Regions from separate parts of the Homo sapiens genome. Here region 1 is linked to region 2. Evidence: fine-mapped expression QTL. A gene starts in region 2. The other region holds a variant in brackets. All regions are shown on one strand. Distances are from middle to middle.

Region 1 (5,233 bases), 180 kb before region 2:
CAGCCTCTGAGTTCCCTTAGTATTTATTGATCATCTGTGGGTGTTTCTCGAAGAGGGGGATGTGTCAGGGTCACAAGACAATTGTGGGGAGAGGGTCAGCAGACAAACACGTGAACAAAGGTCTTTGCATCATAGACAATGTAAAGGATTAAGTGCTGTGCTTTTAGATATGCATACACATAAACATCTCAATGCTTTACAAAGCAGTATTGCTGCCCGCAGGTCCCACCTCCAGCCCTAAGGCGGTTTTTCCCTATCTCAGTAGATGGAGCATACAATCGGGTTTTATACCGAGACATTCCATTGCCCAGGGACAGGCAGGAGACAGATGCCTTCCTCTTGTCTCAACTGCAAGAGGCATTCCTTCCTCTTTTACTAATCCTCCTCAGCACAGACCCTTTACGGGTGTCGGGCTGGGGGACGGTCAGGTCTTTCCCTTCCCACGAGGCCATATTTCAGACTATCACATGGGGAGAAACCTTGGACAATACCTGGCTTTCCTAGGCAGAGGTCCCTGCGGCCTTCCGCAGTTTTTGTGTCCCTGGGTACTTGAGATTAGGGAGTGGTGATGACTCTTAAGGAGCATGCTGCCTTCAAGCATCTGTTTAACAAAGCACATCTTGCACCGCCCTTAATCCATTTAACTCTGAGTTGACACAGCACATGTTTCAGAGAGCACGGGGTTGGGGGTAAGGTTATAGATTAACAGAATCTCAAGGCAGAAGAATTTTTCTTAGTACATAACAAAATGGAGTCTCCTATGTCTACTTCTTTCTACACAGACACAGTAACAATCTGATCTCTCTTGCTTTTCCCCACATGAGACGATGGGGTTTTCTAGATAAACAATCATGTCGTCTGCAAACAGGGACAATTTGACTTCCTCTTTTCCTAATTGAATACCCTTTATTTCCTTCTCCTGCCTGATTGCCCTGGCCATAACTTCCAACACTATGTTGAATAGGAGTGGTGAGAGAGGGCATCCCTGTCTTGTGCCAGTTTTCAAAGGGAATGCTTCCAGTTTTTGCCCATTCAGTATGATATTGGCTGTGGGTTTGTCATAGATAGTTCTTATTATTTTGAAATACGTCCCATCAATACCTAATTTATTGAGAGTTTTTAGCATGAAGGGTTGTTGAATTTTGTCAAAGGCTTTTTCTGCATCTATTGAGATAATCATGTGGTTTTTGTCTTTGGCTCTGTTTATATGCTGGATTACATTTATTGATTTGCGTATATTGAACCAGCCTTGCATCCCAGGGATGAAGCCCACTTGATCATGGTGGATAAGCTTTTTGATGTGCTGCTGGATTCGGTTTGCCAGTATTTTATTGAGGATTTTTGCATCAATGTTCATCAAGGATATTGGTCTAAAATTCTCTGTTTTGGTTGTGTCTCTGCCCGGCTTTGGTATCAGAATGATGCTGGCCTCATAAAATGAGTTACGGAGGATTCCCTCTTTTTCTATTGATTGGAATAGTTTCAGAAGGAATGGTACCAGTTCCTCCTTGTACCTCTGGTAGAATTCGGCTGTGAATCCATCTGGTCCTGGACTCTTTTTGGTTGGTAAACTATTGATTATTGCCCCAATTTCAGCTCCTGTTATTGGTCTATTCAGAGATTCAACTTCTTCCTGATTTAGTCTTGGGAGAGTGTATGTGTCGAGGAATGTATCCATTTCTTCTAGATTTTCTAGTTTATTTGCGTAGAGGTGTTTGTAGTATTCTCTGATGGTAGTTTGTATTTCTGTGGGATCAGTGGTGATATCCCCTTTATCATTTTTTATTGTGTCTATTTGATTCTTCTCTCTTTTTTTCTTTATTAGTCTTGCTAGCGGTCTATCAATTTTGTTGATCCTTTCAAAAAACCAGCTCCTGGATTCATTGATTTTTTGAAGGGTTTTTTGTGTCTCTATTTCCTTCAATTCTGCTCTGATTTTAGTTATTTCTTGCCTTCTGCTAGCTTTTGAATGTGTTTGCTCTTGCTTTTCTAGTTCTTTTAATTGTGATGTGAGGGTGTCAATTTTAGATCTTTCCTGCTTTCTCTTGTGGGCATTCAGTGCTATAAATTTCCCTCTACACACTGCTTTGAATGCGTCCCAGAGATTCTGGTATGTTGTGTCTTTGTTCTCGTTGGTTTCAAAGAACATCTTTATTTCTGCCTTCATTTCGTTATGTACCCAGTAGTCATTCAGGAGCAGGTTGTTCAGTTTCCATGTAGTTGAGCGGCTTTGAGTGAGATTCTTAATCCTGAGTTCTAGTTTGATTGCACTGTGGTCTGAGAGATAGTTTGTTATAATTTCTGTTCTTTTACATTTGCTGAGGAGAGCTTTACTTCCAACTATGTGGTCAATTTTGGAATAGGTGTGGTGTGGTGCTGAAAAGAATGTATATTCTGTTGATTTGGGGTGGAGAGTTCTGTAGATGTCTATTAGGTCTTCTTGGTACAGAGCTGAGTTCAATTCCTGGGTATCCTTGTTGACTTTCTGTCTCGTTGATCTGTCTAATGTTGACAGTGGGGTGTTAAAGTCTCCCATTATTAATGTGTGGGAGTCTAAGTCTCTTTGTAGGTCACTCAGGACTTGCTTTATGAATCTGGGTGCTCCTGTATTGGGTGCATATATATTTAGGATAGTTAGCTCCTCTTGTTGAATTGATCCCTTTACCATTATGTAATGGCCTTCTTTGTCTCTTTTGATCTTTGTTGGTTTAAAGTCTGTTTTATCAGAGACTAGGATTGCAACCCCTGCCTTTTTTTGTTTTCCATTTGCTTGGTAGATCTTCCTCCATCCTTTTATTTTGAGCCTATGTGTGTCTCTGCATGTGAGATGGGTTTCCTGAATACAGCACACTGATGGGTCTTGAGTCTTTATCCAACTTGCCAGTCTGTGTCTTTTAATTGGAGCATTTAGTCCATTTACATTTAAAGTTAATATTGTTATGTGTGAATTTGATCCTGTCATGATGATGTTAGCTGATGATTTTGCTCGTTAGTTGATGCAGTTTCTTCCTAGTCTCGATGGTCTTTACATTTTGGCATGATTTTGCAGCGGCTGGTACCGGTTGTTCCTTTCCATGTTTAGC[G/A]CTTCCTTCAGGAGCTCTTTTAGGGCAGGCCTAGTGGTGACAAAATCTCTCGGCATTTGCTTGTCTGTAAAGTATTTTATTTCTCCTTCACTTATGAAGCTTAGTTTGGCTGGATATGAAACTCTGGGTTGAAAATTCTTTTCTTTAAGAATGTTGAATATTGGCCCCCACTCTCTTCTGGCTTGTAGGGTTTCTGCCGAGAGATCCGCTGTTAGTCTGATGGGCTTCCCTTTGAGGGTAACCCGACCTTTCTCTCTGGCTGCCCTTAACATTTTTTCCTTCATTTCAACTTTGGTGAATCTGACAATTATGTGTCTTGGAGTTGCTCTTCTCGAGGAGTATCTTTGTGGCGTTCTCTGTATTTCCTGAATCTGAACGTTGGCCTGCCTTGCTAGATTGGGGAAGTTCTCCTGGATAATATCCTGTAGAGTGTTTTCCAACTTGGTTCCATTCTCCGCATCACTTTCAGGTACACCAATCAGACGTAGATTTGGTCTCTTCACATAGTCCCATATTTCTTGGAGGCTTTGCTCATTTCTTTTTATTCTTTTTTCTCTAACCTTCCCTTCTTGCTTCATTTCATTCATTTCATCTTCCATTGCTGATACCCTTTCTTCCAGTTGATCACATCGGCTCCTGAGGCTTCTGCATTCTTCACGTAGTTCTCGAGCCTTGGTTTTCAGCTCCATCAGCTCCTTTAAGCACTTCTCTGTATTGGTTATTCTAGTTATACATTCTTCTAAATTTTTTTCAAAGTTTTCAACTTCTTTGCCTTTGGTTTGAATGTCCTCCCGTAGCTCAGAGTAATTTGATCGTCTGAAGCCTTCTTCTCTCAGCTCGTCAAAGTCATTCTCCATCCAGCTTTGTTCCGTTGCTGGTGAGGAACTGCGTTCCTTTGGAGGAGGAGGGGCGCTCTGCGTTTTAGAGTTTCCAGTTTTTCTGTTCTGTTTTTTCCCCATCTTTGTGGTTTTATCTACTTTTGGTCTTTGATGATGGTGATGTACAGATGGGTTTTCGGTGTGGATGTCCTTTCTGTTTGTTAGTTTTCCTTCTAACAGACAGGACCCTCACCTGCAGGTCTGTTGGAATACCCTGCCGTGTGAGGTGTCAGTGTGCCCCTGCTGGGGGGTGCCTCCCAGTTAGGCTGCTCGGGGGTCAGGGGTCAGGGACCCACTTGAGGAGGCAGTCTGCCCATTCTCAGATCTCCAGCTGCGTGCTAGGAGAACCACTGCTCTCTTCAAAGCTGTCAGACAGGGACATTTAAGTCTGCAGAGGTTACTGCTGCCTTTTTGTCTGTCTGTGCCCTGCCCCCAGAGGTGGAGCCTACAGAGGCAGGCAGGCCTCCTTGAGCTGTGGTGGGCTCCACCCAGTTCGAGCTTCCCGGCTGCTTTGTTTACCTAAGCAAGCCTGGGCAATGGCGGGCGCCCCTCCCCCAGCCTCGCTGCCGCCTTGCAGTTTGATCTCAGACTGCTGTGCTAGCAATCAGCGAGATTCCGGGGGCGTAGGACCCTCCGAGCCAGGTGTGGGATATAGTCTCGTGGTGCGCCGTTTTTTAAGCCAGTCTGAAAAGCGCAATATTCGGGTGGGAGTGACCCGATTTTCCAGGTGCGTCCGTCACCCCTTTCTTTGACTCGGAAAGGGAACTCCCTGACCCCTTGCGCTTCCCAGGTGAGGCAATGCCTCGCCCTGCTTTGGCTCACGCCCGGTGCGCGCACCCACTGGCCTGCGCCCACTGTCTGGCACTCCCTAGTGAGATGAACCCGGTACCTCAGATGGAAATGCAGAAATCACCCGTCTTCTGCGTCGCTCACGCTGGGAGCTGTAGACCGGAGCTGTTCCTATTCAGCCATCTTGGCTCTATTTCCGTGCCACATTTTCTTAAACCAGTCTATCATTGATGGACATTTGGGGTGGTTCCAAGTCTTTGCTATTGTGAATAGTGCTGCAATAAACATACATGTGTATGTGTCTTTATAGCAGCATGATTTATAATCCTTTGGCTATATACCCAGTAATGGGATGGCTGGGTCAAACGGTATTTCTAGTTCTAGATCCTTGAGGAATCGCCACGCTGTCTTCCACAATGGTTGAACTAGTTTACAGCCCCACCAACAGTGTAAAAGTGTTCCTATTTCTCCACATCTTGTCCA
Region 2 (5,188 bases):
CACAGAAATGTTCTACAGGATCAAGTCAGCTATAAGGCAGTTTTGTGTCTCCAAAACTGTCAAATAATATTCCTATAGATGATTGGGGCCATCTCAAAATTCAACCTTGCTACCACTGTGAAAGGGACAAAAAAAAAAAAAAAAAAGCAACCTCTATTCTGTAGATACTAAAGGTTACATATTCAAATATACCTCCTCTACTTGAAAAGCTTCACTGATTCTTTCAAGCGCCAGACCTGTAAAAGAAGTATCACAGTAGGTATTACTAAATAGCAAAATACAGTACTGTCTAGACTGTTTACAAAAACTGTGCAAGTAAGTAAATAAAATCGTCCAGTATCTTACACACTGTTGCTTTAGTAATGTTGTGACATCTAAATTTATGTTTTCACTCAAAATCCTGTCTTTCTCTTGGCTTAGTAGTATTATCCATTTACCAAGAGCTTTTTCCCTTTTACCAAAAGCGTAATTTTAAAAGGGGGGGGGGTATGATTCCATTTAATAAATTCCTGCATACCAATTTGGCCTCAGGTAAATCCTTTAATCCATCACAGCAGAAGCACATAAAATCAGATTAGAGTTCTCATCCTTGGCCACAATTTCAATTCAACTATTAATAACTTAAACCAAATTCTTTCCACTCGGCCCATACCTTAAGTTCATCAGCATCTTGAAACTCCACCAAGCCTGGTTAAAAAAAGTGAAAGACAATGTTAAGAATATCATGCAATTTTGTTTTTTAATGAGTGGTCTTTATGGTGGCTATCCAATAGCTCTCTTTGATGAGTAAATAAATTGCTATCTCTGAATATAATTCCTGTACAAATTCTCCAAATTTCCTGATACTTGGGAGTCTTCTGTAGTTTCCAGCTAGGAGGAAAATGGTCAGGAGTCACTATCTTCCCACTGATGAGCATTGAATCCTATCCATTTTTGAAAAGAAACACTATCCCAACAATATTTGTCTGGGAAAAACTGAAACAAACCTTCCACAGATTTGAAAATCAAAGGAAGCACTATTAAACTCGCTTACCCTGAGGCTGAGTTCAGGGGGCTGGGAAGTTTCTAGTTCTGGGCACTTGCTCAGTTTTCACAATCCTTAGACGCTAGCTCACACTGCTTCCTTGACATGGTGTCTCTCACAGTTTAAACTGAATAGTTAAAAAACAATTTGGCAGGCCGGGTGCGCTGACTCACGCCTGTAATCCCAGCACTTTGGGAGGCTGAGGCTGGCGAATCACCAGCTCAGGAGTTCAAGACCAGCCTGGCCAACAAGGTGACACCCCGTCTCTACTAAAAAATACAAACAGTTGGGCATGGTGGCGGGCACCTGTAATCCCAGCTACTCAGGAGGCTGAGGCAGGAGAATTTCTTGAACCCGGGAGGCAGAGGTTGCAGTGAGCCGAGATTGCGCCGTTGCACCACAGCCTGGGTGACAGAGCGAGTCTCCGACTCAAAAAAATAAATAAAATAAAATAAAAATAAAATGGGCTCAATAAGAATCTCTAACACCTAAAGCAATGGTAAAACAAAGCCTTACCACCGCTATCTTCCTGTGCTGTATATAGGGCTATTCGCCAGAGCTGGAGGTATTCCAGGGAGGGAAAATTGTCCATGCTCTGGGTCTATCTATAACGCTGGATAAAAGATGCCTAGAACCTAGGCTGCAAATGTACAAGCTTTCCTCATTAAAGAATGGTAAAATGGGTCCCATTTGGTTTCATCAAAAAGGCAGCAAATCTTTCACAACTGAGGAAAACAGGTGAACCACGAGCTTCACATTCCAACAGAACTGTGGTACCTATGCTAGCCACAAAGATTATTTGTTGACTCAAATGTAAATTTAGATCTTTATCAATTTTACTAAATTCGCAAAGTATCCCTTTATATAGCATTTTGTACCAGTAATGAACAATTAGTATGCTCAGCGATGCTCAGGAGAGCCGCTCCAAAAACTTACATTATTCCCCAGACAAACGTTCTCTAGGGGCAGCCTTGCGTATTTCTACACCTTAGTAGACCTAAGTTAGGCGTTCAACACCTTGTCCTGGTCCAAGCCAGAAAGAACCCAGTAGTTCAGACTTTTCCCAGGTCAGAAAACCACGAAGGGCCTCCTCACACCCTGATTAAACGTTGGAAGCGGGCCCTGTGCTGTAATAACGCTCTGGCCACTCCCAAAAAAGCGAATCTTCGGGAGGAAAGCAGGCTCCCTTATTAGGGCTCACAGCACTCCGCTCAACTTACTGTAGGCGTCGGCTCCAGCAAGACTCGTCCCTCCAAGCCTTTAAATTATCTGACTGCGGGCCAGTAGCAAATGAACGGCACTGGTGGCGGTGGGGGATGGCTGCGCGAGTGAAATGACCTCCGTGTGTTTGCTAACCCCGCTATTATACTGCCCCGCTTAGAAACTTAAAGCGCTTCAGACATCAGATCTCACTCGCTTCCCAAATAGGCTTCCGTCCGCGCGGTCACAGCCCCTGGGCAGGCAGGAGCCCCGAGTGCACCAAGAACCCAGAGACCGTCCGGGGCTCGGCGCCTCCGCCTGCGGTTGGAATTTGATCCTCAAAATGCAATCATTTAATTGAAAAAGGACTAAAAGCTGCCTGTAGGCCGAATGCGTGGACGGCAGGGACTCAGGCACGGGAGGTGACGGGCGCCTGGCGGCTTCTGCTGAGTGGGGGTGGGATCCTCGAGGAAAGGGGGCGGCCCCTTCAAGCGCACAAGGACACGGGCCGTCCTAACCCGGGACGAAGGGCCCAAGCGCCACGAGGACGCCCCCACCCCCGAGGGGCCCTAACGGAGGCTTCCCCGCGGCGCCGAGCCGAGGCCTCGGCGTGGGGGCAGCGAGAGGCGCGCCTAGGAAGCGCACGGGGTAGCCCCGGAGCCACGTGGTCGGCTCCTGCGTCCAGAAGGTCCGAGCCCACTTACCCAGTCACGCGCCGCGGCCGAAAAGGGAGGGCACTGCGGAGATCAAGTTTAAAAGGGGCCTGGGCGGGGCGGCACCAACCAAAAAGTTGCCGGAAGGCCCCTCCGGGTCCAGCACCCGCCCCGCCCGCGGGGCCCGGAGGCCCTCGCGCGCCCCCTGTCGGCGGCCCGGGCCTTCCCCGCCTTGGGCCCCCCCCCCCACCCCACACGGCCCCGGCTCCCACTTGGCCCCGGCTCCCACTTTGCCCCGGCCTCCGAGTCTGGGGAGTCTGCCCCAAACTCTCGCTGGCTGTGATGTCTCTTTACCTCGTTGAAGGTCAGAGGAAGCTCCTGCCACTCAAATAATGTTAGGTGTCTCTGGTACCCACTCCCCTCCCTTGCCTGGTGTTTCTTAAAGTCTTCAGCCACGCCCCTGGGTGCTTCTTTCAAGACTCGTCTAATTACGTAGCAGAAGACTGGCTCCCGTTAAAGGATGTGAACATTAGCGGAGGTCGGGGGTGCAAACTCATCGAAGAGGGGTTGAAGCACGGGGAGGACTCCTGGTGCCTGGAGTGCTGCATGCTTAGAATGATGGCCACGGCCCGCAAATATCTTGCCCCCAAAGCACGTCTGTGTCATTGGACTGTGAGGAGGAAGGGGAGAAGGTATTCTGACTGCAGTAAAATAAGCAGGTCTGTTGGCTGGATGCCTAAGCAGCACTACATATAGAACATGAGTGTTAAGGACTGAATTTGTCCCCACTCCCAAAGACATTGAAGACCTAACCTCCAGCACCTGTGAATGCGACCTAACTTGGAAAAACTGCGTCTTTACAGATGTGGTCAAGACGAGATCATTGGGGTGGACCCTCCTAATTCAACATGACTGATGTCCTTATCACACGGTGTCAAAATGCCACTTGAAGACAGAGACACACGAAAATGTGGCGGGACAGGGGCAGATCAGAGTGATGCAGCTGTAAGCCCAGGAATGCGGTGGATTGCCGGCCACCACCGGAGAAAGGCTAGGAAGAGGCAAGGAAGGACCCTCCCCTGCAGATTTCAGAGGGAGCTTGGTGTTTGGTTCTGCTGACACTTTGATTTTGGACTTCTAGTCACAAGAAATGTGAGACAAAACATTTCTGTTAAGTCACCGAGTGCTTTGTTAAGGCATCCCTAGGGAATTAATACAAGGACTGTGGGGACTTTCCCTCTGCCGTTCTGTGTAAAATCTGGCCATAAAGACATTATTTGACTTCCCTTGTTTGACTGTAGGTCATAAGACCCCCATTCCAGAGGGAGTCCTGTCCCATACCCAGAAGGAAAGAGTGCATGCTCAGAGAGGCCAAGAAGAATCCAGACAGACAGGCCTTGCTGGGTTTTCTCCCTCTATTAGTCTTAGATCATACACTTTTTGTCCGATCACATTTCTACGTCACTGCCCATACTTTGTTGAACCTAGGCATAAAAATGGATAATTTCCCCTGTATCTTTGGGTCTTCATTTGAAGGATCCCGGGTATACACATTAAATACATTTATATGCTTTTTCTCCAATTAATCTGCCTTTTGCAAGTTGATTTTTTAGTGAACCTTAAGAGGGCAAAGGGAAAACTTTCCATGTTGGCCCCTACAGATTGCTCAGTGCAGCAAATACTTATTGAGTGCCTATTCTATGCCAGGTGCTGTGATTGGTGTTGGAGGGTGTGAAGTTCAATGAGAAACTGCCCCTGCACTAAAGTGAGGAATATAAAATGAGATTCACCCACTGATAGAAGCCCATGAAGAGTGCCAAGGGCACAGCATAAAGCCACAAAGCCCAGCCTGCTAAGGCTACAGGAAAGGCTTCCAGAAGGAAGAGGTACCTATTAGTACAATGAGTGTAGCATGACCAGCAGGAAACTCATATGCTGCATGAAATTTAGGAGAGGAAAGAAGCAAAGAGGCCAAGAGAGTTACAGAAAAATCATAGGATAATAGAGTGCAGGGGACTTTAATAGGTCATCTAGGATTATTCTCTGGTGGGTGGAGCTGGTCTTAGGGTGTTGTCATGCAGAGTTGCCATGATGGTGCAATGTAGGCTCCATGAGAACTCTGTTTCCTTCTCTACTGAATCCCCCGAATTCAGTGTAAACGCCTAGAATATATTTAGATAAGGGGAAAAACTCCTTATCTAAATATCCTTATCAGAGGAAGAGATTATTCCCCCAAAGCAGTTCAATATTCATACCATAAAACTCTTCAAGGCTGATAATGGGGCAGTAGTGGGGTTTTATCCCAGGCGGT

The links. PIP is the estimated chance that this variant, and not a neighbour inherited with it, causes the effect.
Region 1: its variant is the best candidate, but not a certain one, in a credible set for the expression of SNHG26 in whole blood (INTERVAL, PIP 0.50).

What each region holds. Positions count from the first base shown.
Region 1 is chr7:23,035,443-23,040,675 of GRCh38, reverse strand. No RefSeq gene overlaps it. Among named protein-coding and RNA genes, the nearest start is that of HYCC1, 24 kb to the right of the region's middle. The variant G/A (reference allele first, on the strand shown) is at 3,084.
Region 2 is chr7:22,852,021-22,857,208 of GRCh38, reverse strand. SNHG26 (small nucleolar RNA host gene 26) reads right to left here and starts at 2,969. Exons shown (of 5, transcript NR_146320.1): 1 at 2,929-2,969; 2 at 653-687; 3 at 193-236. SNORD93 (small nucleolar RNA, C/D box 93) reads right to left here and starts at 596; the gene lies at 523-596. RefSeq lists enhancers at 1,965-2,194, 1,986-2,597 and a silencer at 2,695-3,154.